Linked DNA regions of Homo sapiens: regions 1, 2, 4, 5, 6 and 7 are each linked to region 3. Evidence: fine-mapped expression QTL. A gene starts in region 3. Each other region holds a variant in brackets. All regions are shown on one strand. Distances are from middle to middle.

Region 1 (4,096 bases), 140 kb before region 3:
ATCTTTTTTCTGTCATTTCAACATAATGTAACACATACCTCTCTACTTACACCTCAATGGTTGTGGTTTTTTTTTTTTTTTTTTTCTAATGCTGTCACTTCAGGCCAAACAATAATATCATCCTGTTGGGTACAATCAAAGGTATACTATTGGGTGAAAGAATAGTGACAGACTTTTTAACTTCCAGATTAACCTGTGTCCTGAAAAAGAGGTGTCACTGAATACAAAAGCCATCAATTATAAAAGTTAATTTATAATTTATAATTATAATTTCATTCTCCCAAAAAGCTTCTTTTAAAAAGCAGACTCCCAGTTTCGGGTTGGTATTGTCTTTAAGTCATTTATACTTTGACAGAGACAAAGTGAAACCTAATTGTTTCAAGCCATCGACACATGATCAATCAGAAAGGAAGATAAAAGATAAGATCATGGAATGTCTGAATTGTAGGATCATTTACTCATTCATTCCACTGATAATTATTGAGTGTCTACGTTGTGCCAGAATTTTCTCCGCACCTTAAAGAGGCAACCTGTGGCCTGTAGAATCGAATTATTTTTTCTAAGACATAAGTCAGGCTTTCTAAAAGGTAGCTCAGTATTTTTTCTTGTTAGAAATTATAATGTATCATTAGAAAAATAAGACTTTACTAGAATGATTAATGTGTCACTTTTATGAAGGCATGGCTTACATGCTTTCTCCTAGGCCATGCAGTACAGCAATGGATGTGATAGCATAAACAGCCAATGAGCCCTCTCTTGTGATGGAGCTCTGTCTTTAGAATCCAGGTAATTGTAGATAGAGTGTGCTGGATCTTTCCGTAGGCTCACCCTCCCTCAGCCTTGTCTGCGCCCCAGGCTCCCAGTTATGATGGAAGGTAGAAACTGACTTTCTTGTCCTTAGGATTTGGTTAGGTTCAGCCAGTGGGAGGCCCTGATTTCCCCCCTAATCTCTCCATCTCTTAGTTGGGCTCTGGGTTGGGTGTGGCTGGGTGTGACCAGGGCTTCTGCCAGGCAGCCCACTTCCGCCGCTGTTCTCTCTCCCCATATTCCCGAGCCGCTTTCCCCTCTTGCTCCTTCAGGCCTAAGATGGGAAAGGACCTCACCAGGTGCCAGATGGGAAGGCTTCATTAGCTATTGCTTGAGGTAGAATGAAGTTTTGTGGGGCATGAGGCATATGTTATTTTGAGAGTTTTCTTTAAGACAAAGAACACAAAATTCTGGCTTATAGATTTTAAGGAGAGGGCCTTGGAAGAGGCCATGTGAAAGAAGAACCCTGAAGCCTAAGGTTTTTTTTAGCCCTTCTTGGCTTCCTTAAAACCTCGCCCACACTTTGTAAATAGTCCTTCACTACTTTCCTTAATTACACAACTTGAGTGTGCTATATGTTTCCTGTGCTGGGATCCTGACTAATTCTACTGTGTGCCTAATTATGACTAACAAGTACCCCAGAAGGTTTCTCTACCTGTACTTTGAATAGTCTCCCCAACATTCTCTTTTTCTCACAAAGCTATCCGGCTGAATTAATTTGCTTTACAGTTGAGATGTATTATCCTAATTCGGCGATTTTTTTTCTTATGCATAATGTGTAATTAAAAGGAGATAGAGTAGTTTGAAATTTATAGCAAAAGTATTTCTTATTCTACCTCCTGGATTATATGCATATCCTGATTAACATAATCAAATTACTGACAAGTTAGTTCCTAACTAAAATTTAGCCAAACTGGAAAATGGAAATGTGTTCCTTGTGAAGTCATCAAAT[C/T]AGTTCCTTTTTATTAACTTGTAACCCAGAAAGTACATTCCTTATGCAATTTAAAAAGAATGACTTGTGCAATAATTCATGTCAAAGATCAAGAATGGTTACTTTAAAGCACTTAAAAGCCACTGGTGAGTCTCAGAATCTAAGTACTAAAGAACCAAGGACTAAACTTCAGTTGGGTCATCCATGTATAAATGATATGATGCAGGAGATGGTGATTAAGTTGGGGGAAAGAGGGTGAAGCGGCCCTTGGAGACAACTAACACAGCCTGCCTGCCCCGACCAGGCACAGCTACAGCCAAGTCAGAGGCCCTGGGGCTGACTGGGACCCAGAAGAGAAATGAGAGCTGGAGAAGAGGAACAGACAAGCCTCTCCAACACAGCACGGACTCTAGCTAGGCTGGCTCTGAGACTTCTAGTGACCTTGAGACCTCATAACTTCAGGTCAGTTTAGCCATGTTTGTAAGTGTGGATTTAATAGTGGATTTATTTCTAGAAAATGGAACAATCTTTATCTTTCCAATTAATATACACTGCCCAGAAATGTCTTAGTTTCCTGTAGTTTCTAGTGAGAATTGTTGACTTTCTACCAACACTTTGCAAATTAAGAAGTAGATTTCACACTTCTATGATCAGAACTCAGGAATACTACTAAATGGGATCAAATCACTTATTCTCTCAAAAGTTGCACATCTATCATACAGGGTACTGAGAAATTCATGTGAAATGATACATGTGAACATCTTTTGAAAAGCACAAAGTAGCCTATGACAGTGATGGCTGGCTTTATTAACAGTGCGATATTTTGCTGATGTTTTGCTCAAGTTAAAATTATAGAAACTAAGTAAGTAACACAATGAATTTATGGTTCTCAACTGGTGAGAAGGAGATGAAAATAACAGCTTTATCAGATGTAGTTTCTAACAGAGCTAATTTGTCTGCAGAACTTGGCATATCATTGCTCATGAGCACTCATCTTTAATGTGTCATGGCTAGAATAAAGAAAACAATATAAGCCTACTCTTTTTTTAATCTCTTTTTTGCAGCTCATAAGGTATGGAGGATATGCAAACTATGCAGGGTGAACACTTTTGAATCACCCTATGTAAAACAGCACCCTCACTTTCTATGATCTATTCTCCTTTATTTTTCTTCATAGCACTTAACATTACCTGAACCATATTGCATATATATTTGTATATTTCTTTATTGCTGTGTCTGCTTACAGAACATAAGCTTCGTGAGGAACAAGAACGTTATTTTGTTCACCTGTGTCCCTACCTCTTCATCAATGCTTGGTACCAATAGGCACTTAAATATTTACCAAATGTACATATTTTCCAGAAATCCTTTATCCTCCAGCCTATCAACAATCAAGAGTCAGACAACAGTGTATCATGGAATGGACAGTGGTTTGGGGCAATCACCTATCACCGAACCTGAGTAAGCAACTTTCAGATAGAAACAAAGGCCTGTCTCTAGCCTTATTCTCTTTCTCAAATGACTCCCCAAAATCTAGTTTCTAAAATATTCCTCCTCTGGATTATTTTAAGGATAAACTGAAATGTTTGTAAAATGCCCAATACAATCTCTGGGGAAGAGAAGGGAAATGGAAAAGAAAACCATGAAATAAATACATATTTGACCCAAAAGCACAGGCAATAAAAGCACAAAGTAGACAAATGGGATTGTATCAAACTAAAAAGCTTCTGCACAGGAAGGGAAACAAAAGAGTAAAGAGAAAATCTATAGATTGGGAGAAAATATGTGCAAATCATACATTGGATAAGGGATTAATATCCAAAATATACAAGGAATTCAGACATCTCAACAGCAAAAACAATCTGATTTAAAAAATGGAAAAAGGATCTGAACTGGCATTTCATAAAAGAAGACATGCAAATAGCCAAGAGGTTTTTTTTTTTGTTTTTTTTTTTAGTGCTCAACATCACTGTTCATCAGGGAAATGAAAATGAAAATTATAATGAACTATCACTTCACACCTGTTAGAATGGCTGTGATCAAAAAGGTGAAAGATAAGTGTTGATGAGGATGTGGAGAATGGGAATTCTTATACACTGTTGGTGGGAATATAAATTAGTATAGCCATTATGGAAAATAGTGTGGAGGTTCCTCAATAAAACAAAAATAGAACTGCCAGCAATCCTGCTTCTGGGTACATACCCAAAAGAAATGAAATCAGTATGTTGAAGAGATATCTGGCCCCCTGTGTTCATTGCAGCATTATTCACAATAGCCAAGATATGGAATCAACCTAAGTGTCCACCAGTGGATGAATGGATAAAGCAAATGGGGTATATATGCACAGTGGACTATAAT
Region 2 (4,096 bases), 190 kb before region 3:
CTTCTCATGGGTGCCACCGTTTGCCCAGCCAGTGGAGCTTCAAGCCCTCAAGTCCTTTTTGAATAATCCTTCTTCAAGCTTTGTGACTAGTTAATCACCAAGGCCTATTGATTTGGTCTATTGATTTCCTTCCAAAATTTCTCGCACACTCCTCTATCCTCATTTCTAATACCTCTGCACTGGGCCAGGAGTCAAAATACTATATTGACTTAGACAAGTCACTTAGCCTCTCTGGTATCAACATTATTCATAAAATGGTGATTTGCCATGCTCCCCTAGAAGTTTGTGGGCCTTTTTTTTTTTTTTCCTTTTTTTCTTTTCTTTTGGTGGCGGGGGGACAGAATCTCGCTCTGTCACACAGGCTGGAGTGCAGTGGCATGATCTCGGCTCACTGCAACCTCTGCCTCCTGGGTTCAAGCAATTCTTCTGCCTCATCCTCCTGAGTAGCTGGGACTACAGGTGCATGCCACCACACCTGGCTAATTTTTGTATTTTTAGTAGAGACGGGGTTTCACCATATTGGCCAGACTGGTCTCGAAATCCTGACCTGGTGATCTGCCCACCTCGGCCTCCCAAAGTGCTGGGATTACAGGTGTGAGTCACCGTGCCTGGCCCTGTTGTTGTTGTTTTTAACCCAACAAATGCCTTTTGAGGATTATGTGTCAGGTACTTTTCTATTGCTGGGGATACAGCAGAGAACCAAAGTCCCTGCTCTCCTGAAGTTAATACTCTAGTGAGCTGAGACAGGTAATTTTAAACATGCACAGGACTGGAGGTAATAAATGAAGCAGGCAGGGGATAACGAGGAGTGGGGATGTGGTAGCAGTATGTCCAACAAACTAGGAAGCTTTACTATCCAACTATGTATTTGCCTTTTTTGTTTTTTCCTGAGACAGTCTTGCTCTGTTGCCCAGGCTAGAGTGCAGTGCTATGATCTCAACTTACTGCAACCTCTGCCTCCTGGGTTCACGCAATTCTCCTGCCTCAGCCTCCCAAGTAGCTGGGATTACAGGTGTGTCACCATGCCCGGCTAATTTTTGTATTTTTAGTAAAGACAGGGTTTTGCCATGATGGCCAGGCTGGTCTCGATCTCCTGACCTCAAGTGATCTGCCTGCCTTGGCTTCCCTAAGTGTTGGGATTACAGGCAGGAGCCACTGCACCCGGCCTCCATCTGTGTATTTGAATGCAAAGTCAGTGCTTTTTTGCTGTGCAATACTAAAGGACAGGATAGCATTATTTCAACCATAAAGAACCACGTGATTAAAGGCACTATTACTACTATTATTAAGAGACTTAAATCCTCAACACCTCTTGCACAGATTGCTCCAAGGCTTTCCTGACCGAGTTTCCCTGACCTTGGGCTCTCCCCTCTCCATGAAGCTTTTGTACAAGGATTGTTTCAGCATGAAACAATTGAGCCCATTGCCTTTGCCCTGGGTCTTGTGTTTCCTGTGGAAGCCATCTAAACTCAGTGTGCTCAGCTTTGCTTCTCCTCCCAGTACAAAGCCCTCCCAGCAAGCCGGACTGGTATGCTCCCTGATTCGCGTGTCCACCAGCTCCACTCCAGCGTGTACTTTCTACCTTCCTGTTAATGCAGAGTGCCGATCCTGTCCTTTGAACAATCCA[C/A]CTTGGGAGGTACCTTGGATTAACTAGAGCCCAACTCTCCCTTTCTAGATGATGGGAAGACATACAGAGTAAAGAACCTGCTCTGAATTCCATTACACAATGAGATGATCTTCAGCTTCTCCAACCAACCTGAAGCCCGTGTCCTCTGGCGTCTGGTACTCAGATATCACGAAGCACGCCATTGGACTAAGATGGTGGTTTCGCATAGTGCCAAGCACCTAACAGGCATCACTATATACTTGCTGATGTGTGAATTCTGTTTTACTCCAGTGATTCAGCTCTGCCAGGCCTTTGTTTCACTTACCTGCCTCCTGAAACTCTGCAAGACTTGGTAGAAAATGAATCATCAATTTGACTTGTTGTTTCTTCAAAACTTTGACTGTGACCTTGAAACTGTGGTTCTGAAAACAAGTGAATCTTTGAAAAAGTAAACAGAAACACATAAAATTATTTTCCTAAACACATTAACTAATTTAGCCTTTGAAATGATGACCTAAACATGACCTGCTGACTTTTGTTACAGTAAACTGGTACGAATTTTAGAAATCCTTTAATTTTCCATGTCTACATTCATGATCAATTAGAAACATGTTAGCTGCGCCATTCGTGACTATTTATTTAATTCAGAGACATCAAAGTAAAATGCAACAACAAAGGTAACTTTCTATAGAACACCCTGTTGTGAAGCTGTGAGGTATTTTAAAGCTTTATTGTGGTCAGAAATCATTGTTCATCAGTTCTGACATTAACGACAAACAGTATTTTGGAAAGACATAGTGTAGTTTCCTTCCTTCTCAATGGAAGACACTTGCTGACTTATCGGAATCCTGTGAATGCCAATAAAGGAGGCTATAGTGGTGTTTGTTCCTCTATAATTATGGCTCTGTGAACACTTCCATTAAAAGGCCGAAATAACAAATGTACACCCCAGTTGATGTTAAGAATCAGCATTCAGAAAGCTTGAGTGAGACCATAAAAAATGTCTAGTGTCGACACAGCAAATATGAAAATTCATTTTACCATCACAATAACTAGATGCTATTGTTTGAAATATTAATCTCAATGTATTAATATAAACTGAGTCAATGTAATGATATAAAATTCAGCTTTATACAATAAGCATTTTATAAGAATTATTTAGACATGGGTCAGTACTGTCAATTAACCATTAAAGTAAACTTAAATCTTATTTTTTAAATACAATTATGCTTTCAGGCATAAAAATGAGTAAAACTAACAAAATGTCCCAAATGTCTGATTTTTTTTTTTTTTTTTTTTTTTTTTTTTTTGAGACAGAGTCTCTGTCACTCAGGCTGGAGTGCAGTGGTGCGATCTCGGCTCACTCCAACATCTGCCTCTTGGGGTTCAAGCAATTCTCCTGCCTCAGCTTCCTGAGTAGCTGAGCTTATAGACACAAGCCACCACACCCAGCTAATTTTTGTCTTTTTAGTAAAGACGGGGTTTCCCCATGTTGGTCAGGCTGGTCTTGAACTCCTGAGCTCAAGTGATCCACCTGCCTTGACCTCCCAAAGTGCTGGGATTACAGGCGTGAGCCACCACACCCGGCCCCAAATGTCTGACATTTGAAACATAAGTTCAGCTTTTCAATGGAAGGCCCTTTATATATTAATATAAAAGAATATTTTTAAAGTTACCTGATTTCGTCTCCTTGGGCCAGTGAAAGAATCCTAAAAATTTTTAAAGGAAGGAGAAAAGGAAATGAATAGAACAAACACATTGAAAAAGTTTTTTTCTTCTAGATTATTAGCAATTACTGCTAAAAATAAACTCAGAATATTTTCCATAGCAATTACTATTACATGAACCAGGAACACACATTAAGGAAATCCAGAATTCAGTTAAATATTCTCATACAAAAATATAACTCCTTACCAAACATATAGGTTGAACAGAAGAGATCTTACAATTTTTGCCTCCCCAGTCCTCAAAACTGGTATAAAATCCTTTATCCAGTATATACTGTTCTCCTGTGAAGTCAGGATTTTCATAGGCTACCCATCTAAGAAACAAAAGCAATCACTTGTTGGAGTTCATATTTTACATATAAAACGATCACATATTTGGATATCTATGTATCATACAGAAACTTTCATTTGTTTTGCCAATTGAAATTTTAATTTTTCTGATTCTCCATTAACCTTTAGAAGCAGATGGGTTTGTCTATAGGACAAATCAGAATGGTAAGCCAGCAGAGAAGAGGGAACATTTATACACTGCTGGTGGGAATGTAAATTAGTTTAGCTGCTGTGGAAAGCAGTTTGAAGATTTCTCAAAGAACTAAAGATAGAACTAGTATTCAACCCAGCAATCCCATTACTGGGATATACCCAGGGGAAAACGAATTATTCTACCAAAAAGATACTTGCACGTGTCTTGTTTACTGCCACACTATTCACAATATCAAGATGTGGAATCAACCTAGGTGTTCATTGATCAATGGTGGATTGG
Region 3 (4,096 bases):
TGGGACTACAGGCGCGCGCCACCATGCCCGGCTAATTTTTGTATTTTTAGTAGAGACGGGGTTTCACCGTGTTAGCCAGGATGGTCTCGATCTCCTGACCTCGTGATCCGCCCGTCTCGGCCTCCCAAAGTGCTGGGATTACAGGCGTGAGCCACCGCGCCCGGCCTCCTATTTTAAATTTTATACTAAAATGTATTTACATTTGAATAAATTACCTATAGCTGTGTATTATTATGTTTTGATAGACAGTAAATGATAAGACTAGATCTTAAAAGGAAAACCACGATGGAAATGTTTAAAATATTTACTGAGGTAATAGAAAAGAACTTCAATGTTGGGTACATTAAATACTGTATTTTGTTAGAAAGTATAATCTATAATTAGGCACAGTAAACGTTTGAATAGGTAATATATTTCTACTACAACTGATTACCAATGTGGATGATAAAATATGAGAGAAAAATAAAATGACTTCTTTCTTAGGTTTCCTACCCTTACCCACTCACACCTAGACCTCCCCGCTGCAACCACTTGCGCTTCTCAGGAAGTGCCACGCTCTTCTAAGTGCTGGTGATGTGCACAGTGCAGCCCCTGCCTGGAACTCGCTGCTCCTCCCTGTTTCTGCCTAAGCCACTTCACCTATCCTCCTCCAGGAAGCCTCCCTGATCCCCTCCTGTGTGCTGGCATCTATCATTGCATTTTTTGGTATCCACAAGAGACTAACAATTCTTTGATGACACAATTATTCCTGTCTCTCATTGTTTTTTATATCGCAGTACATGGCACTTAGCTAAGGTACTCAATACAATAAGTGAATGAAAATAGATCGTAAAATTGACTTTTTTTACAAATAAAAGGAGAGGCCGGGCGCGGTGGCTCATGCCTGTAATCCCAGCACTTTGGGAGGCCGAGGCGGGCGGATCATGAGGTCAGGAGATCGAGACCATCCTGTCTAACACGGTGAAACCCCGTTTCTACTAAAAATACAAAAAATTAGCCGGGCGTGGTGGCGGGCGCCTGTGGTCCCAGCTACTCGGGGGCTGAGGCAGGAGAATGGCGTGAACCCGGGAGGTGGAGCTTGCAGTGAGCCGGGATTGGGCCAGTGCACTCCAGCCTGGGTGACAGAGCAAGACTCCGTCTCAGAAAAAAAAAAAAAAAAAGAAAGAAAGAAATAAAAGGAAAACCATGTCTAAAATGCAAATTTTGCACAATTTTATTCTGGCCCTCATAGGGTGTATTTTAAAAACACATTTGGAAGGATTTACTGGACATTGTCAATTGTCCATCACTATAAATATTTCACACCTCTGAGCCATGTAAATACGCTGTTACTTCAAATTGATTATTATTCAACGAATGCATAAACTCTGATGCTATAGTTGAATAATTATACATATAGAATAAAACCACTTCAAAACCATGATAAAAATCAAAAAGCACAATGGTAACTACAGTTTTGATAACTAGGTGCTCTCTAGCTCTGCCACTGGCTCCAATGGGGAGAAGCCATTTATCCTTTGGTCTCAGTTCCTCCACCCATGAAATGGGGGTAACCATTCCTGCCACTTCCTCCTCCCTTCGTATGTTGCGAGGAGAATGGGGGTATAACATCTGTAAGAGCACAGATCTTACAGATATTCACAATAAAGAGCTTTACAATAAAGACACTAGCTCAAAAGCAGTGCCTAACCCCAAAGCAGAGTTCCCGCCATCATTTAGGACGGTAACAACCCTCACTCCCCGCCGCTCTGGTTAGCAGGCTGATGCGGGAGGCTCCTGCATGAAAACTTTGCAGTCATACTAAAGGCCACATGCGTGGGCACAAGTTCCTCTCGCCGGTGCTTGGTCTGAACCAAAAGCCGCGAGGAACCTCGTCAACCCCAGCGGCTACGATCGCTCCCCTCCGGACCCGGGTACCCTCCTGCGGACTGAAACAGACCCCGGGGCTTTCCCCTCCTCCAAGTGGGGTCAGGAGTCCAAGGGCTAGCGCAGCAGGAGAAGGAGGAGGAGGAGGAGGTGGGACTGGAGGGCTCGGGCGAGGAGCTCACCTGGCCTCTCCGGCAGGCGCCGGGAGCGGGTGCGGAACGAACACCCCACAGTCAGGCGGCGCCGGCTGCTGCTTCTTTTTGGAGCGCCAGAGGTGGAAGGTGGTGTGCTTCTTAGGGGGCCTGCACGGGCTGGGCTCCCCGGGGTCGCCCTGGGCTGGCGGGGACAGCGGCATCGTCTTGTCCTCCTCCCGCTCCGACTGCCGGGACGCGGTCCTCTCTGCCGCCCGGGCCCTATGGAAGAACACACCTGAGCGCCAGCTCGCCCGCCTTTCTCAGCGCGCCGTGGGACCCCGCCCCCTCGTCGCGGATGCGGGGGGACGGCCGCGGGTTGCAGAACCAGCACCCAGCGCAGCGCGAGCAGCACTGCAGCCCGAGCTGTTGGGGCGGAGGCGGGGACCCAGCCGCGGAAGAGCGCCCCCGCGCGGCGCGGGCGGCAAGGGGCGCTAGCCCAGGTGAGGCGCTCGCGCCGGGAGCCCCAGGTGAGGCAGACACGCCCCGGCTCCCCACCCCGGGGGCGCGCGGCGGCCGTGGGACAGCGACACCTACTGGATGCTCTGGGCACCGCGACTCCCGACACTGCATCCCAGGCTCTAAGATGGGACCCAGAGCCGGGTCGGGCTTCCACAGCGCCTGGGGTGCAGCGGCCATTGTCGCCTGCGGAGTTGTTGGCCGCTCTTGGCCTGTGACAGGCTGGCAGGGTGAGTCGCTGCTTAGCCACGAGCCCCGCCTGGAGAAGGATGGGAGAGGCACATCCCGGGGCTGGGCCGCCCAGCAATTAGGACTCTTCCACTCTGATCTCTGGGTGGCTTGGGCAATGTCATGTGCTGGTGGCTTCTGTTCCTGTTCGTGAACACGGGTGGCAACTCCGCCAACTCGTCTCCTCTCTCAAGAGTCTGAATAATTAATTTGTACTCACATCTCATAAAACACAAAAGGATTAAAAAAATTAAAAACGCCAGAAGGGAATTAGGCATATTCCCCAATTCCCCAAGAGCTTAATAGATCCCTCGCAGTAAATTAAATGCCAGTCCCACAAGGTATTTACATCATCTGCATTACTGTTGATGACTTTCTTGTCTTAACTTCACAGTCGTGGCTAAATAGCAAAGGAAATTAATACTTAAGCAAAGTAAGTAAACGAACAATTATTTTGGGCATCATTAGAGCAAAGAAAGTGCAAGAACTAAGCACTACTTAAAAATTCAATGCAGTACAAGATCCTCTTTCACGGTAATGTCTTTATTTTCCTCTTTGAAAACACAACTCATTCATTCGTTTATTCACTCATTCAAGGAACATTCATTTTTATTTGTTTTTATTTACATTTTTATCAAGATGTAATTTATAGACAGTAAAATGCACAAATCATAAGGGTAAAACTCAAATTTTTACATATTTATGTGGTTGGGGTGTGAAAAGTTTTTTAATGGAGAGTTGACATTGTCCTAGAAAATTCTTCCGTATGTGGCTTTTAAATGTATGATTATAGGCCAGGAGCGGTGGCTCACGCCTGTAATCCCAGCACTTTGGGAAGCCGAGGCAGGCAGATCACTTGAAGTCAGGAGTTTGAGACCAGCCTGGCCAACATGGTGAAACCCCTTCTCTACTAAAAATACAAAAAAAAAATTAGCTGGGCGTGGTGGTGGAGGTGCGCCTGTAATCCCAGGTACTCGGGAGGCCGAGACATGAGAATCGCTTGAACCCAGGAGGCAGAGGTTGCAGTGAGCCGAGATGGCGCCACTGCACTCCAGCCTGAGCAACAGGATGAGACTATGTCTCAAATAATAATAATAGGTAAATATATATGATTATAAAAATATAGAATACTTTCAAAACTTTAAAAATCTCCCTACTGTCCTCTTCCAGTACATTACCCCTCCCACCTGTAAAAGTTAACCATTATTTCATCCTCTTTTGCTGGAGATTAATTTGACCTTTTCTGGAATTTCATTTTAGTGGAAAATCACAATATGTACTCTGTTTCTGGTTTGCTTTGCTCAATATTAGTCGGTGAAAATCATCTATATTGTTGCTTATATTGTAGCAGT
Region 4 (4,096 bases), 180 kb before region 3:
GTTAACTCAATATAACAATGACCCTTCTGAGCCATGGCTAAATGTACTCTTAGTGATAACCAGTGCCATTAGCATCATCTTCCACCCTGAAGGATGGCAAGTGTAAGTTGGCAACTTCCTTTGGCTGCATTTATGTGTGACAGAGGTTTAATATGAGAAGTCACATAAGCAATATCTTCATAGAGATGGAGTGGGAATAACATTAAGTACATATATATGTGTATATGTTTAAATAATTACATATACATACATACAAAAATACATATATATTTTTACCTTTGGATCTGTAGGGAATTCAACTTTACGGCCACCCTGAAAAAAACAACATAGTAAGAAAAATAGTTTTTCACTGATACATTACCATTTTATATTAGCCATAGCAGTTTACAGTAAAACATTGAATTTCAGTGTGACTATGTTCTGGTTTGTTTTAACTTACGTGAGATAGTTCTAAAATTACCAACAATACAGATGAAGACACGAGGAAGGCAGGCTAGAACGGAGCCTCGCACAAGCAGTCTATAAGCTGATCTGCGTTGTAGGAGTGTTTTTTGACCTAGCAAGTTTTTTTAACTTGGAAAATTTATCATAAAAATCCATACTTCTCTTGAAAAAGCAGTTCCAAGAGCTGACATCTCTGGACCCAGATTCTCCCAGGCCACTGTCTTCGGCTTCTGCATTTAACGATCCTGCCCTCAGTTCATCCTTCAGCTGGGCACAGGCCCGGGGTTGCCGTCTCTACCATTCCCTTCGGTTTAACTCTCAGCCATTTGTATTTGCTGCCTGGCCCCTGAAGGTATTTGATTTTGCAACCAGGGCTTACGAAACTATTATGTGTTGAAGTTCACATAATAAGATCTGGGGGACTCATGGAATAATTAGATAAACTGTTAAATAAAATTTAAAACATCCCAAAGGATGAGTCTATGAGGGGTTGTTATAAAATAGAAAGCTTTTTAAAAACAAAAAAACTCACTAAAATCAGAGAAATGGTATTACATTAAAAAGATATTGCACAAAAATATTAAATAGTTCAAGAGTTTAAATCAGCAATGGGAAAGTTGGATTTTTTTAAAATTAATATATCTTTAATAGCTTTTTAAAAAAAAGTACCACCAAGGATGCTCAAAGGCACCAAATGAACTATAATTATAAAAGAATGTGTTGGTTTCCTTAACTTTTATGAAAAAACAAGCAAAAAAAAAAAGGAAAAAGGAATGTGGCTGATATTATCAGCAAACCAGAGATTATACAACTAAGCACATGACCTTTTCAAAAGTAATCCTGTTTGAACACCATAGACTTTGGAGACTTTTCATCATCATTACAAACTGCTCCTAAAACCTGGATGAATTCTTTCATACATTCACAAAACTAACAAAACTTTGTTCTTTGAAAGTGAGTTTAATTTTAGAAACAAAAGCCCAAATCATTTGCATTAAGACCAGCAAACATACAGATAATTAAACCAAATACTTTGGAAGGATGGGTAAAATTAACATTAAAAAAATTGTCTTCCTAACTTTCTAATTTGTCTCAAACTGTCTCAGAAGACAACTGCGAAGTGCAGCTTCAAAAACATGTTTGTAATGGGAGCCTCATCTCACTGTGGGTATTTAGGGAACAACTTCC[A/G]TGCTGCAGCACACACTGCGCTCAACACTGGGGACAAGACAGATGCGGCCTGCTTCCTCCCAAAGCTGACAGTCTAGCGGAAGAAACAAAGAACAAAGCAAGACACTGGGACAAGGGAGAGGAAGCACAAAGCTTCCACAGCAGATACTCAGGAGGACAACACTCATCTGGTCCAGCCCCAGAGACCCCCAAGACACCACCCACTCGTGTCACGGCAGCCGAGCCGGTCCTCAGCGTGCCCTGCTCTCTCTCAGGCTGCACCCTAGCTCACACAGTGCATTCACCGACAGCTCCATTTAAAAAATCATCCTGCTAATTTTTTAAGACTGAATTTAATTTAGCATGAAGCTTTCCTAATTATCCCTTTTCTGTCACATCACCCACAACTTGGAATTGTATGTATCTTTGTCCTGTTTTTCCACCAATGTTTAATTCTTCACTTTCCTCACTTGTTAAACCTACACTGCGCTGAAGCTTTGCGCACCCATCTGCAGCTCTGCAGGGCTGAGAATGCCTTAAAGACAAAGGACATAGTCTTACCTGCCTTTTTTTTTTTTTTTTTAATCTATAGCATCTAGCAAGTTATTCTTTCCATGATTTCTATTGAGCAATAGGTCCAATCTACTACAAATTTGTTTCTTAAAAGTCAGCTTTATTGCTTCAAAGTCACACCCTGTGAATTACCACGTCAAGCTGACAAAGAATCACCACAAGGACATTTGGATTTCATTTTTACCATTTTCAGAGGCCGCATGGATCCAATGTACGCTTCTTCTGTATCCCAGAAGGACAAGTCAGGGTATTCACCAGGTTCCAGGATGAAAGGAACACCCTGAAATCCAGGTTCTTCATAAATCAGCCACCTAAATAGCCACCATGGAAGGAAAGAAAGGGAGCCGACTCATCATTTGTTTCAGTTTTTCCTTCTGTCTGGTACCCAGGATGAGAGGAAAAGAACAGGAGAGGATACGGACCTACATAATGAATGGTTGGACTCAGGTGTTAGAATCACACTAGACTCAAGGAAAAATAAAGCCATTATATGCCCCTATTCTTGATCTTTTACTTTTCTCCTTGGCTGGCTTTGTCCCCTTATTTTAATTTGTATTATTAATTGCTCCAAAGTTCCATCTAATCATTTGTCATGGTGCCAAACATTAGTAACAGCTAACATCTCCCTAGAGCTTACAAGGAATGCCACTGAGAACTTCATCTAATCCTCACAACCATGCTATGAGGAAGAGAAGCTATTGTCCCCATTTTATAGATAAAGTTAAGTAAGTTGCCCAAGGCCACACAGCTATAAGTATGAAAGGCTGGAATGATTCAAGCCGATTCCAGAACCAGGTTCCTAATCAATTTTTTTTTTTTTTGACGGAGTCTTGTTCTGTCACCCAGGCTGGAGTACAGTGGCTTGCTCTCAGCTCACTGCAACCTCTGCCTCCTGGTTCAAGTGATTCTACTGCCTCAGCCTTCCAAGTAGCTGGGAGTACAGGCACACACCACCACATCCGACTAAGTTTTGCATTTTTTTTTTAGTAGAGGGGGTCTCACCATATTGGCCAGGCTGGTCTCAAACTCCTGGCCTCAGGTGATCCGCCCGCCTTGGCCTCCCAAAGGTGCTGGGATTACAGGTGTGAGCCACCATGCCCAGCCCTAATCATTTTTGTGATGGCAATTTTTCTCATTGCAGGAAGTGCATTGAACACAGTTTACTCTTTTCACAGTTACTCAGGATCATCACTGTGAGCATTATTTAATGCACAGTGGTGTCCTCAGGGGCTCTGAAGTTCTGTGGGGCTGCTTGTTCCCAGGCCACAAAGCTTTTTGAGTTCTTGGTTCTGATTGTTATGGCTTTTCAATACCACACCCTTCTATCAGCTTGTCAGCTGTCACTTCTGCTTCAGTTGGGGAACCAGCAGCCCCACCCTCCTCTAATGTGCCAGAAATCAGGAAACCAGAAAACCATGCCTACTAGCCCTGTCTCTAAACTTTACAAGGTCTTCTTGTAAACATCTTCGTTCCTGGGAAGGGTTCTGAGAAGGTGAGGATGCTGAAGAAGTGACTTTTCTATAAGAGAGGGGTTAATGTACCTGCTTCATAAACAAACATAGACTTCTTAGTGATCACTTACACTCATCAATTCGGTTAGTTTTGCTAAAATGTTTTAGCCGTGGTACTCCACCATGTTGTGTTCCCCAGAACACCATGCCAAGAAGAGAGTGGCTGTAAATGAAATCTTTTACCAACAAAACGGGTCTGACCCCTCCCTCTTTGCTTTTTTCTTCTTCCCAATTTTGGCCCAAGGCACATTTTTGGCGGTGGTTTTTGTGAAGATTCCGCTGGATAAACTGGTAACTTCTCTAGACTCTCTAATTATACAGAGATTTACAACCAGGCTCCTACTGATGATTTGACAACACACACATGAAAGAATGTTGGGAGGCCAGGTGTGGGATATGGG
Region 5 (4,096 bases), 170 kb before region 3:
AGTTAGTGGCTTGGGAAACAAAGATGGGGTATTTTAGAGATCTTTAAAAAGAGACTTAAAAGAGACAGAACAATCAAACGCATTTATGTGAACCTTGATTGGATCCTGATTTGAAAATGCAAATCTATAAGAGACATTCCTGAAGCAATTGGGAAAATTTGGTGATGGACTATTGAACAGATATTATCATGGACACTTTGTGAATTTTCTCAAGTGTAATAATGATACTTATGCAGGGGAATACCATTAGAAAGAGAGTCAGGCTGAATCCTATGTGGAATGAAGGGTCATGATATCTCCAATGTACATTGAAGTGCTCAGAAAAATAACACAAATATGGTAAAATGATAACAATTATTGGGTCAAAGTGAATGGTACATTGGTGTTCACTGAACTATTCTTCCTACTTTTCTGTATGTTTGAAAACTTTTATAATAAAAAATTGGGCTCTGATATGGTATATTCCACAATGAAATATACAGTGACTATTACACAGCAATGAAAAAAATACATAGAGATGTACCCATCAATATGAGTAATCTTAGGAGTGTGGTTACATGTGTAACCACGGTGGGCAGCAATGTTGGTAATGGTCTAGGTTGTAAGTTGGATGGTGGGTCCACGGGGGATTGTTTTATTATTGGGCTTCATAGTTCACATATATACATATATTATTCTGTATATGTCAAATATTACACAGTACAAATGATCAAATAATGTTTGTCAATTAAAAAAGAAGTCCCTTGACTTTAGAACACCTGCATTCTAGTACACATTCTGCTAACAGCTAACCCTAGTCTGGAGAAAGTGACCAAAGCTTGTCTTCCTCAGTCAAATGATGGTGTTGGGCCAGATCATCTTTATACTCCCTTTGAAGTTCTAAACTTCTTTGCTTTTGTTCGTCATAAATATACCACCCCCCACTTCCACCCCTACACACACCCCGCCCCCAAAAAACCCAATATGCTTTCACCTCTGGGAGGATGGGTGCCAGGATTAGCCAGCTGCTTAAAAGAAAGATTTAAAAACAAATTACTCTCAACAGAATCTGAAAGGCAAGTTTAGTTAGAAATCACTCATTTCCTCAAACAAGAATTTGACCAGACAAGTAACACCCTTATTTTGTGTATGAGTAGAAGAGCTTAATCTAGAGTGAATGGGCCCTGGAATAAATCACCTAATGGATTCTTAAGGAGTTCCCTCTACAGCAAAGACTTCTTATCCCAGTTCAGGGGAACCAGTGCATCAACAGAAGCAAAATGAGCTTCAGTACTTACTATCAGTGACATCTTCTCAACCCCTTGAGACTTTCCTTTGAGATCTATAAAAGCACTAATGACCTGGTGTCTAAGCTCACCAACCAAGTTCAACGAGCCCAAACTTTGAATTAACATCTGAGGCAGTGTTCAACAGAAATGAACAGCCAGAAAAGAAGATGCTCACCATGACACAAACCTGTCATAAATTGTAAGCTGTGACAGGCTGGTAACTACCACCCAGGAGGCAAAGCTAAACTTACTGCAAAGGTAAGAAATATCATTTAAGGTAGATTAATGTGCTTCAACATAGCCAAGCCTGAGTCATGGCACCTTCCAGACACTGAGATTAAAATATGATAACAGATGCCTTTTTCATTCTTTTCTAAGGAAAGTGGTGTTTCTCAACCTGACACCAATTCTTTAAAAAAAAGTGTATAGACTTCTTTCATGTAAAAAAATTAAAGGCAGCAAGAGATGAAGGCATTTTCTTTTGCTTAGATTCCCACTTTTCTTCCCAGTCTCTAAATACAAAAGTGCCTTCTCTTCCCTTAACTACACCCACTCCCCTTTGGGACTGTGTCCTGTGCCTGGTTTAAATACATTCTCTTTGCCAGTGACTCCTAAATTTATGCCTCCAGCCTCTCCCCTGAACTCCAGCCTCACATAGTCACCTTCTTGCCCACTTACTTGAATTTGCAGTTGGCATCTCAGCCTTAACCTGTCCAAAACTGAGCTC[C/T]TGAATCTCACTCTCTCTCCTATCCTGCTCCTCCAAGTCTTTTTCGTCTCAATAAATGTTGGGGTTCCAAACCCTGGGCATGTCTTGGCCCCTCATACCCCACACACAATCTGTCAGAAATGCTGTTAGTTCTACCTTCAAAATGCATCCAAGATCTGACCATTTCCCACCACCACCATCGCACGTCTAAGCCACCATCTCTTCTTGGCTGTATGATTGCAAGTGCATCCTACGTGGTTTCTTGGCTTCCACCTTTGCCTCTTTACAGACTATTTTCTATACGAACAGACAGGCTGATCCTTCTATTAATAACACAAGTTAGATAAAAATTCGCCAATGATTCTCCATGCCACGTAGAGTAAATCTAAATCCTCCTCCCCAAGGCGTGAAAGGCCAGATGTGACCTGAGCCCTGTCTTATCCCTATCCTCCTACTTCACTCAGCTTCAGCCGCCTTGGCCTCTTAGCTATTGCCCAAGCATGCCCAGAAGGGCTTTTGCAAATGGTGTGCTTCCTCTCTGGGACAGGCTCCCTGCCCCTCTTCCCTCAGCTAGCTCCAGGGCAGACTCCCTCACTTCCTGCCGGTCCCTCCTTAAAATGTCACCAGAGTCCTTTACTAGCTACCCTATCTAAAATAGCAACATGCCTGCCCCTCTGTAATTTATGTTTCTTGTAGCCTTTGCCATCTGACACATTATATATGTATTTGTGTTGTTTATTCCTGCTAGACTGACAGCTCCAGGAGAATGGGGACATCATTTTATGTCTTCACTGCTGTATTCCCAGTGACTAGAAAAGCACCTGGCACATGGTAGATGCTTGATTAACAGATTTACTGAATATATTTAATACATCTCATAGACACTCTTTTGGGTTTATATTTGTTAAAGTCCCAATTTCTTGTCATATTTAGACAGGGTATGCAGAGGAAATAAAAGCCTTTCCTAATTTCTACTTCTAAACTAACCACCTTTAAAAATTTCAGAGCCTTTCAAGGACTACGGGGTACCAAATGATATAACTCAAAATGTACACAAAAAACAGTACATTTATTTAAAGAAGATATACAAATGGCCAAGAGGTATATGAAAAAATGTTCAACATCACTCAAGATCAGGGAAATGCAAATCAAAACCACAATGAGATACCACCTCACTCCAGTTAGAAAGGCTATTATCAAAAAGACACAATATAACAAGTATTGGTGAGGATGTGGAGCAAAGGGAACTCTTCCACACTATTGGTGGGAATATAAATTAGCACAGCCATTATGGAAAACAGTATAGAGGCTCCTCAAAAAATTAAAAATAGAACTCCTGTGTGATCTTGCAATCTCACTACTGAGTATATATCCAAAGGAAATGAAATCAAGTATGTCAAAGGATACCCGCACTTGCATGTTTCTTGCAGTGCTATTTGTAATAGCCAAGATACAGAATCAGCCTGAGTGTCCATCAACAGATGAATGAATAAAGAAAATGTGGTAAAAATATATAATAGAATAAGTTCTGGTGTTCTATTCCACAGTAGGGTAACTATGATTAACAATAATATATTTTATATTTCAAAATAGCTAGAAGAGAGGATTCTGAATGATCTTACCACAAAGAAATAATACGTGTTTGAGGTGATGGATTTGCTAACTTCCCTGATTTGATCATTATGCAATGTATACAGGTATCAAAACCTCACATTGTACCCCATAAATATGTGCAATTATTATGTGTCAATTAAAAATAATTTAAAAAGCAGTAAAATGTATACTATCCTTGGAAAATAACTTTATACATCAAGAGGAGATATTTAAATTAATATTGTTCTCTACACCCCAAATTCTGCCCTAGTAACTACACCTTTGTATATTGACGAACCATCACTATAGTCCTCCCTTGTTATTTTCTCACTCTTCTGGGAGAGGAAGGTTGTTTTCTGAGACGGGCTGCCATAGGGAAAGAATACCATCGGGCTTCTGGGGTGCTGGTAATGTTCCAGTTCTTGGCTCAAGTGGTGTCTACTTGGGTGCTCACTTTATTTGTTTAAGTGTACATTTACCTTCTGTGAACTTTTTTCTAGGTGTCTTATATTTCAAAATGTTAAAAGTA
Region 6 (4,000 bases), 240 kb before region 3:
TTTCGCTTTGGTGAGAATGTAGTCAGGAATGTGATTTTTCTTAGAGAACAGCTAAGCATAACAAATTAAAAAGGGCCCCAAATCTCCCTCTCATAGAGGAAGCTCTAACAATTTTAGCCTAGAAAAATTATAAGGCAGATATTACAAAGGACCATCTGAGCTATCTTAAACCAACAAATTATTGGTATTTTCGGTATTTGATATTCTTGGTACAGAGCTCATAGAATGTCTTTATTTTAAGCAACTGCAGTTTCTTGGTGAACCTAAAATAAAAATCCTTGTGTAATATATCTTGGGAAGCTGAATAACTTTATTTTCTTTTAGAATTATTTATCATCTTATCATCAACCAGTTATTTGTTGAAAACGTTTATCCAGTTATATCTGCTTTAGATTCTCGTTAATTGTGGTTTCCTTTGCATTTCAGTGTTCTAATCTTAGGCGCTTCAGGCGGAGTTGGTACTTTTGCTATACAGGTAAAACCATTTTTTAATCTTGTGAATAGGAGGATTTTGTTTGCATGAATTTATAAATTAAGATACATTATTTCTCCTTAAAAGCTGAGAGAAAGGTAGGTCTGGTAAATGTACTGTAATTTCAGCTTGTTCTGTAAGAGGAAAATATTCTTTTTTTATTAGAAAAAATTATTTTTTAGAGATGGAGTCTTGCTGTGTCACCCAGGCTGGAGTGCAGTGGCACAATCATAGCTCACTGTAAGGAAAATATTCTAATGTAGAAGGAAGCATTAAGCTTTCTAGTAGTTTAATATGAGTGGGTGTGTGGATGTCCTTGATAACAGACGTAGGAAAGCTTTTAAGAAGGAAGACCATGGGCAGTGCAGGTAGATGGAAGTTAGCAATTTAATAGGAAACAGCCAATGTCAAAAACCAATACTAGTTTCCAAGCAGAATTTTTGCAGGCTAAAAAGCCTGCAAAATGTAGAAATTGGTAAGCTGATTCTAAAATTTATATAGAAATACAGTAGCCAAAATACCGTTAAGATGGCAATACTCCCCTGAAGTGATTTATAGATTCAGTACAATCCCTATCAAAATGCAACTGCTTTTTTTTTGCTTTTCATAAATGGACAAGTTGACCCCAAAATGCATGTGGAATCACAGGGGACCCCAAATAGCCAAACAATCTTAAAAAAGAATAAAGTTGGAGGACTCACACTTGCTGATTTCAAACTTACTACAGAGCTACAGTAATCAAAACATAAGGGTGAACTTATAGATCAATGGAATAGAATTGAGCATCCAGAAATAAACCCATACCTCTGTGGTCAATTGATCCTGACAAGAATGGCAAGACCATTAAATGGAGAAAATAATAGTTCCTTCAACAAATACTGCTGGAACAACTAGATATCCACATGCAAAAGAATGAAGTTGAGCCCCTACCTCACATCATATTAAAAAAAGAAAAACAACCCTCAAGGTCAGGCATGGTGGTTCACACCTATTATCCCTACACTTTGGGAGGCAAAGGTGGGTGGATCACTTGAGGTCGGGAGTTCAAGAACAGCCTGGCCAACATGGTGAAACCCTGTCTCTACTAAAAATACAAAAATTAGTTGGACATGGTGGCATGTGTCTGTAATTCCAGTTACTCAGGAGGCTGAGGCAGGAGAATTGCTTGAACCTGGAAGGCGGAGGTTTCAGTAAGCCTAGATCA[C/T]GCCACTGCACTCCAGCCTGGGTGATGAGTGCAACTCTGTCTCAAAAAACAAAAACAAAAACAAAAAACTCAAAATGGATCAAAGATCTAAACATAAGAGCTAAAACTGTAAAACTCTTAGAAGAGTAGGCAGGGAAAGGGAAAAAAAGAGTCTTGGAAGGAAACATAAGACAAAATCTTCATGATTGTAGATTTGGCAACAGATTTTTAGATATGACACCCAAAGCACAAGCAACCAAAGAAAAAAATTCATCAAAATTAAAAAAACTTTTGTATGTCAAAGGGCACTATCAAGAAAATGAAAAGACAACCCACAGAATGGAAGAAAATATTTCCATATCATTTTCTGGTAAGAGTCTAGTATCCAGAATATATAAAGAACTCTTATAACTCAACAACAAAAAGACAGCACAGTATTTAATTAGCAAAGAACTTGAATTGACATTTCTCCGAAGAATATATACAAGTGGCCAGTAAGTCCATGTAAGGATGGTCAATATCTTTATTTATTAGAGAAATGCAAATCCAAACCACAGTGAGATACTGTGTCTTACAATAAAAAGCAAACACAGAAAATAAAAAATGTTAGCAAAGATGTAAATAAATTAGAACACTCATACATTGCTGGTGGGAAGTTAAAATGGTGCAGACATTGTGGGAGAGTTTCTTGGGTCCTCAAAATGTTAAACATAGAATTACCATATGACCCAGCAATTCCATTCTTAGGTATATACCCAAGAGAAATGAAAACATATATTTAAGCCTAATCTTATTCATGAATATTCATAGCAGTATTATTCATAATAGTGAAAAAAAGTGGAAATAACTATCAGTTGATGAATGGATAAACAAAATGTGGTATAGACATATAATGGAATATTATATATCTATATTATATATCAGCCATAAAAAGGAATAAAATATTGATGATGATACAGCATGGATGAATCTTCAAAACATGCTAAGTGAGAAAAATCCAGAAACAAAAGGTCCTACATATTGTATGATTCCATTTATATCGTATGTTTAGAATAGGCAAATCCACAGAGACAGAAAGCAGATTAGTGGTTGTCAGGGGCTGGGGGTAGATGGAGAAGGGAGTGGGGAATGACTACGTAATGAGTGTGAGGCTTATTCTTGGGGCACTTAAAATATTCTGGAATTAGTGGTGATGGTTGCACAACATTGTGAGTGTACTAGAGACTACTGTATACTTTAAATACTTTAAAATTGTGAAAATGGTGATATATATGAATTTTACCTCAAATAAAACAAAACAAACCAAAAGTTCCCCAAGCCTCCAGAAACATGATGGGGCCCAGTGACTGCTCCTGTTGTGGTCAGATGTGTAACTGACTGGCTCCTAGAAGAGGGAGCTTGATTAAGACTCTCTCAGGATGAGGGGAGAGATTCTTTTCCCCAGTAGGGGCCAGCGAGTAGCCTCAGAGGCTCTGCCACATTACTTTCCAGGAGGGAGGTTTGGGTGTTATAGACCACCCCAGACCCAGCTTAGACTTTTTGAGAACCCAGATGGTGCTGGAGGCTTCCTGTCTGTCTGCTGACTGAACTAGGTGAAGGAGGCGAGGATTCCTGGGATGCACACTTTAACTTCTTTTAACTCATCATTTGATAATCAGAATCCAATCCAGAGGCTCAGTAAATATGAGTTGAATACATAAATAAATAGAAGAAAGGAAAAGAGGGAGAGAGGCAAAAAGAAAAGAGAAATATCATACACAGTTGGTTAGAGTATAAATTGATACAGCCACTTAAGAAAACCATTTGGCATCTACTAAATGTCAATATAAATTGTAAAATTTCTAAAAAAAAAAAAAAGGACAGCACAAGAATTCCTATTTTAGGATTATAACCTATAGATAGATATACAAGTATGTTTACCAAAAGATATGTACCAGAATTTCAGAGCAGGGCTATTCCTGTTAAAATTCCCCAACTAGAAAAACCCAAATGTCCATCAACAGTAAAATGAGTAAGTAAATTGTGGTATATTCTTACATTGGAATATTATGCAGTCATGAAAAAACTATAATTGCACACAGTGAAGTGGATGAATACCACAACCGAGTGTTGAGTAAAAGAAATCAGATGCAAAAGTACATCCTATATCGTTCCATTTAATGACATTCAAGAACAAGTGAAACTAAGCAGTGGTGTTTAAGGGTGGTGTCTACTTAGTAAAACTTCTTAAAAAAAAAAAAAAGCAAAAAGGGTTACACTAAAGGTCCAGTTAGTAGTTACTTTTTAAGGGAGTTGAGGAGGTTTTAATTGGGAGGCTTAGGGACACAGGTGGTATTCTAATTCTT
Region 7 (4,000 bases), 250 kb before region 3:
AGGCTATTATCACAAAATACCATAAACTGGTAGCTTAAAAACAAGAGAAATTTATTTCTCACAGTTGTGGAGGCTGGGAAGCCTGAGATCAAGGTGACATCAGGTTTTGTGTCTGGTGAGGACCAACTTTCTGGTTCTTTAACAGTGCTTTCTCGCTTGTCCTCATATTCTGGAAGGGGTGAGGATATCTCTGGGGTCTCTCTCTCTTATAAGAGCACAAATCCCATTCATGAGGGTTCCGCTTGCATGACCTAATCACCCCACCTCCTAATACCATCACCCTGGGGGTTAGGATTTCAACATACGAATTTTGGTGGGACACAAACATTACAAACATTCAGACCATAGCACTTGGTACTTGCTGCTCTCAGAAATTTCGGTTTACTGAAATTACCACACATGGGTTATAATAATGGCCTACCTCTTTTAACTGCTTATTTGTGAGAGTCACATGAGAGATGTGAGCACCTTAAAATACTGTAAAAATACTTTTAATGAAGAAATTCTATAATGAGATTTTATTGTACCTAAACTCAGAAGTTCCAGTGTCCAAAGTGGATTTTCCATTTGACTATTCATTGTGATTGATGGAGCATATTTTGGCTTCAATATGCTAAGCAATAACTGTTCTTTTTCTGTTAGCTATTAGCTATTGGCATTAAGGCATGCCTTAGTCTGCACAAAGCACATCAGTATTTGTTATCAAAGATGAATCATCTTTTTTTTCTAATCAGTTAATTAAAAAAAAACAAAATTAACAATGACAAAAACACCTATCAGCACCTTGGAAGATTTTATAGGATTTCTTTATAACAAACAGCTTATTTGAAATTAGGACAAATCTTTCTAAGGGTTCAATGATGTTTACCTTTTTCCCCCTTTGTTCTGTAGTTACTTTTCTGCAGCAGCTGAGTATCAGTGAACCAAGGAAATAGTTTATTCTTGATGTCATATAATACTGTCATTTTGTCCACACATTGATATCATTAGAAAATGTCAAGTGAGGCCAGGCGCGGCGGCTCATGCCTGTAATCCCAGCACTTTGGGAGGCCGAGGTGGGTGGATCAAGAGGTCAGGAGATCGAGACTATCCTGGCCAACATGGTGAAACCCCGTCGCTACTAAAAATACAAAAATTAGCTGGACGTGTTGGCACACACATGTAGTTCAAGCTACTCGGGAGCCTGAGGCAGGAGGATCATTTGAACCACAGAGTTGGAGGTTGTAGTGAGCTGAGATTGCGCAACGGTACTCCAGCCTGGTGACAGAGCAAGACTCCATCTCAAAACAAAAAAAAAGAAAAAGAAAATGTCAAGTGAAAATTATTTTCTTTTTATCAGCCCATCTATAGTTTCTTCATGATTTGTTCAGTAGGAACACATAGATAACTTAGGGCTCTCAAGATAAGTAGAAATTTTTTTAAAAAGTTGTTACAACCGGATATTTTTTGAATATGTTAAGATTTGATGGTTTTATTTATTGGTAGTGTCATTGGTGCACTTGAATATTTCATGCTCTGCCTGAAATTCATGTCTTGCCGGGAAAGTTGTACTTCATTCTGTTTGACAGAAGTATTAAAAGGTGTTAGGTGTAGTGTTGCGTGCCTGTAGTCCCAGCTACTCGGGAGGCTGAGGCAGGAGGATTGCTTGAACACGGGAGGCGGAGGTTACAGTGAGCTGAGATCATGCCACTGCACTCCATCCTGGGCAACAGAGTTAGGAATTGAACTATTCCTCCTCCACAAAATAAATTTCACTTTTAAATTGTGTATACTTGCAACTCAATGAAGTGAATTTAGGAATACTTTTTTTTTGATATTAGGTTTTATGGCAGTAAAATTTTGTCATGTAAGTGTAAATTAGGTGTCTGATTAATTCTGATATAGAATTATAGAATTAGGCCCAGAGTTAAAAACATTGGGTTTATTCCCTACCGATATGCTTATATTAAAATTAAAATGACAGCCTTCTTCTTTCAAATGCATTCTAAGGCCTTTTCTTCACCCCACCACCACCTGTTTCTTCCCACTCCCCAAGCCCATTACCCTTTTGGACTTTAAGTTTTCATTTGCACCTGACTGGGTTGTATTGTTAGGGGGGTAAGGGGAAGTAGAAAGAAACCCCAGCTGTTTTCTTGCATAAACAAAGTATGGGGTTGAGGAGGCAAGGAGAGTGAGAGTGGAGGCTCTGGCTTGGTCAGTGTGATGGAAATGAATCTTCCTTTGCTTCAGGTCTATTTTCCAGGGAGTCCTGGGTGGGGGGGTGGGGGC[T/G]GTGGGCACTTGAAAGAATAGCAGAAACCTCACTCCTGGAAATTTGTGTTTTATACAATAGCTTTCTAAGTGACTAGGTTAACTATCTCGTGAGGTTACAAGTCATTTACTCTTCAATGGACTGTAATCTAGCTTCTAGCCTTGCCTTTCAATTGCATCTGCCCTCACTGGGGTCGTAGCTAACTTAAGTGACTTAAGTTGCCAAGCCCAAAGACATTTTTCAGTTCTTATTTTAATTTGATCTCTCTGAAGTAGCTGGCATTGTTGAACACTTCCTAAATACTTACTTTTCGTATGGTTTCAGGGACATTAAGACTTTTAAGTTTTCTTTTTTTGTTGTTGACCATTTCTTGTCATTTTTAGAAGCCCCCACTTCTTCCTCCAGCCCTTTAAATGTGCTGTTTTCCCAGTATTCCACTCTATTCTTCCTTTTTGTTTCCCAGGGTTATCTCATCTACTCCCAGCTTCTACTTATAGTTTGGTAACTTACAGATCTGTATTTCTAACTCTGTCCTCTTACTGAGTTCCAGTCAGATGTTCTCTTTATATCTCAAACTCAACTTGAGCAAAACAACACTTACCAACTACCACCCCAACTCTTCCTCTGTAATCCTAATGTCAGTTAATTGTGGTTTACCCTAAGTCAAAACCTGACATTGTTCATAAACCCTGCTCTTTCACCTTCCTCAGCACTACTCATTATTGTTCGTGTCATGTAAAATATAAGATTGTTGCCAAATTTGGAACAATGTCTTCCAAGTTCCTTTTATATGCCAGCTATAAGATTTGTGAACCCAAAATATCTGAGACAGGTCTCAGTCAATTTAGAAAGTTTATTTTGGCAAGGTTAAGGACACGCCTGTGACACAGCCTCCGGATGACATGCACCCAAGGTGGTCAGGGTGCAACTTGCTTTTATATATTTTTGGAAGACAATACATCCATCAATACACATAAGATTTACATTGGTCTGATCTTGAAGGGTGAGACCTCTTGAAGAGGGGTGGGCTTCCAAGTGATAGGTAGATTTAAAAATTTTCCGATTGGCAGTTGGTTGAAAGATTTATTATAAGTGAAATGGAATGTCTGGGTTAAGATAAGGGGTTGTAGAGACCTAGGTTTTGTCATGCAGATGAAGCCTCCAAGTAGCCAGCTTTAGAGAGAATAGACTGTAAATGTTTCCTATCAGATTCAAGTTCTGTGTTGATGTTAATGCTGCAGGGGTATAATGAGGCCTGCAACCTCCTCTCTCATCATGAGCAGAACTAGATTTTCAGGGAACTCTGGAATGTCCTTGGCCAAGAAGAGGAGTCCATTCAGATGGCTGGGGCCTTAGAATTTTATTTTTGGTTTACAGATTTCAAGGCATTTCACGTTTTCTTGTGTAGTGAATAAGCCTAAAATACTGTTGTATTTTAATGAACAATCCTGATTAGTTTGTTGTTAACCTCTTCCATATAGTGTTGTCTTGTAAATTCTTACATTTTTTTAATTGGAGGAATTTTCCACAGACTAGCTTCTGGCTTTGTACATTTCAAACCTTGTTTAACTTTCTTTCTCCTTCACTACTCACATGACCCTGTGCTGGGTGCAGTGATACACAGCTTTAAGAAAATGTCATGTGGCTTAGGTGAGTTGACTTAATGAGAGGTAGGAAGAAATTCCTGGAAGGCATTTCTTAAACTAGGACAGCTAGGGATAACTTAACTTTACACAGAAGTGACTACGAACC

The links. PIP is the estimated chance that this variant, and not a neighbour inherited with it, causes the effect.
Region 1: its variant is fine-mapped to the expression of CRYBG1 in lung (TOPMed, PIP 0.97).
Region 2: its variant is fine-mapped to the expression of CRYBG1 in blood mononuclear cells (TOPMed, PIP 0.94).
Region 4: its variant is fine-mapped to the expression of CRYBG1 in whole blood (TOPMed, PIP above 0.99).
Region 5: its variant is fine-mapped to the expression of CRYBG1 in whole blood (INTERVAL, PIP above 0.99).
Region 6: its variant is fine-mapped to the expression of CRYBG1 in tibial nerve (GTEx, PIP above 0.99).
Region 7: its variant is fine-mapped to the expression of CRYBG1 in whole blood (INTERVAL, PIP above 0.99).

What each region holds. Positions count from the first base shown.
Region 1 is chr6:106,500,019-106,504,114 of GRCh38, reverse strand. The region is part of intron 2 of CRYBG1 (crystallin beta-gamma domain containing 1); the gene reads right to left. LOC101927405 (a long non-coding RNA gene) reads left to right here and starts at 1,894. Exons shown (of 3, transcript XR_245566.4): 1 at 1,894-2,200; 2 at 3,101-3,199. The variant C/T (reference allele first, on the strand shown) is at 1,760.
Region 2 is chr6:106,551,403-106,555,498 of GRCh38, reverse strand. CRYBG1 (crystallin beta-gamma domain containing 1) reads right to left here. Exons shown (of 22, transcript NM_001371242.2): 14 at 3,521-3,647; 15 at 3,283-3,315; 16 at 1,932-2,044. Among named protein-coding and RNA genes, the nearest start is that of RTN4IP1, 76 kb to the left of the region's middle. The variant C/A (reference allele first, on the strand shown) is at 1,628.
Region 3 is chr6:106,359,034-106,363,129 of GRCh38, reverse strand. CRYBG1 (crystallin beta-gamma domain containing 1) reads right to left here and starts at 2,413. Exons shown (of 22, transcript NM_001371242.2): 1 at 2,049-2,413. The coding sequence starts at 2,221. RefSeq lists silencers at 2,303-2,382, 2,403-2,612 and an enhancer at 1,541-2,407.
Region 4 is chr6:106,537,802-106,541,897 of GRCh38, reverse strand. It overlaps CRYBG1 (crystallin beta-gamma domain containing 1), which reads right to left. Exons shown (of 22, transcript NM_001371242.2): 9 at 2,369-2,495; 10 at 277-312. Among named protein-coding and RNA genes, the nearest start is that of RTN4IP1, 90 kb to the left of the region's middle. The variant A/G (reference allele first, on the strand shown) is at 1,633.
Region 5 is chr6:106,531,663-106,535,758 of GRCh38, reverse strand. All of the region lies in intron 8 of CRYBG1 (crystallin beta-gamma domain containing 1), which reads right to left. Among named protein-coding and RNA genes, the nearest start is that of RTN4IP1, 96 kb to the left of the region's middle. The variant C/T (reference allele first, on the strand shown) is at 1,996.
Region 6 is chr6:106,599,349-106,603,348 of GRCh38, reverse strand. RTN4IP1 (reticulon 4 interacting protein 1) reads left to right here. Exons shown (of 9, transcript NM_032730.5): 5 at 427-475. Among named protein-coding and RNA genes, the nearest start is that of RTN4IP1, 28 kb to the left of the region's middle. The variant C/T (reference allele first, on the strand shown) is at 1,677.
Region 7 is chr6:106,613,221-106,617,220 of GRCh38, reverse strand. All of the region lies in intron 4 of RTN4IP1 (reticulon 4 interacting protein 1), which reads left to right. Among named protein-coding and RNA genes, the nearest start is that of RTN4IP1, 14 kb to the left of the region's middle. RefSeq lists enhancers at 2,281-2,787, 3,295-3,802 and a silencer at 3,333-3,627. The variant T/G (reference allele first, on the strand shown) is at 2,269.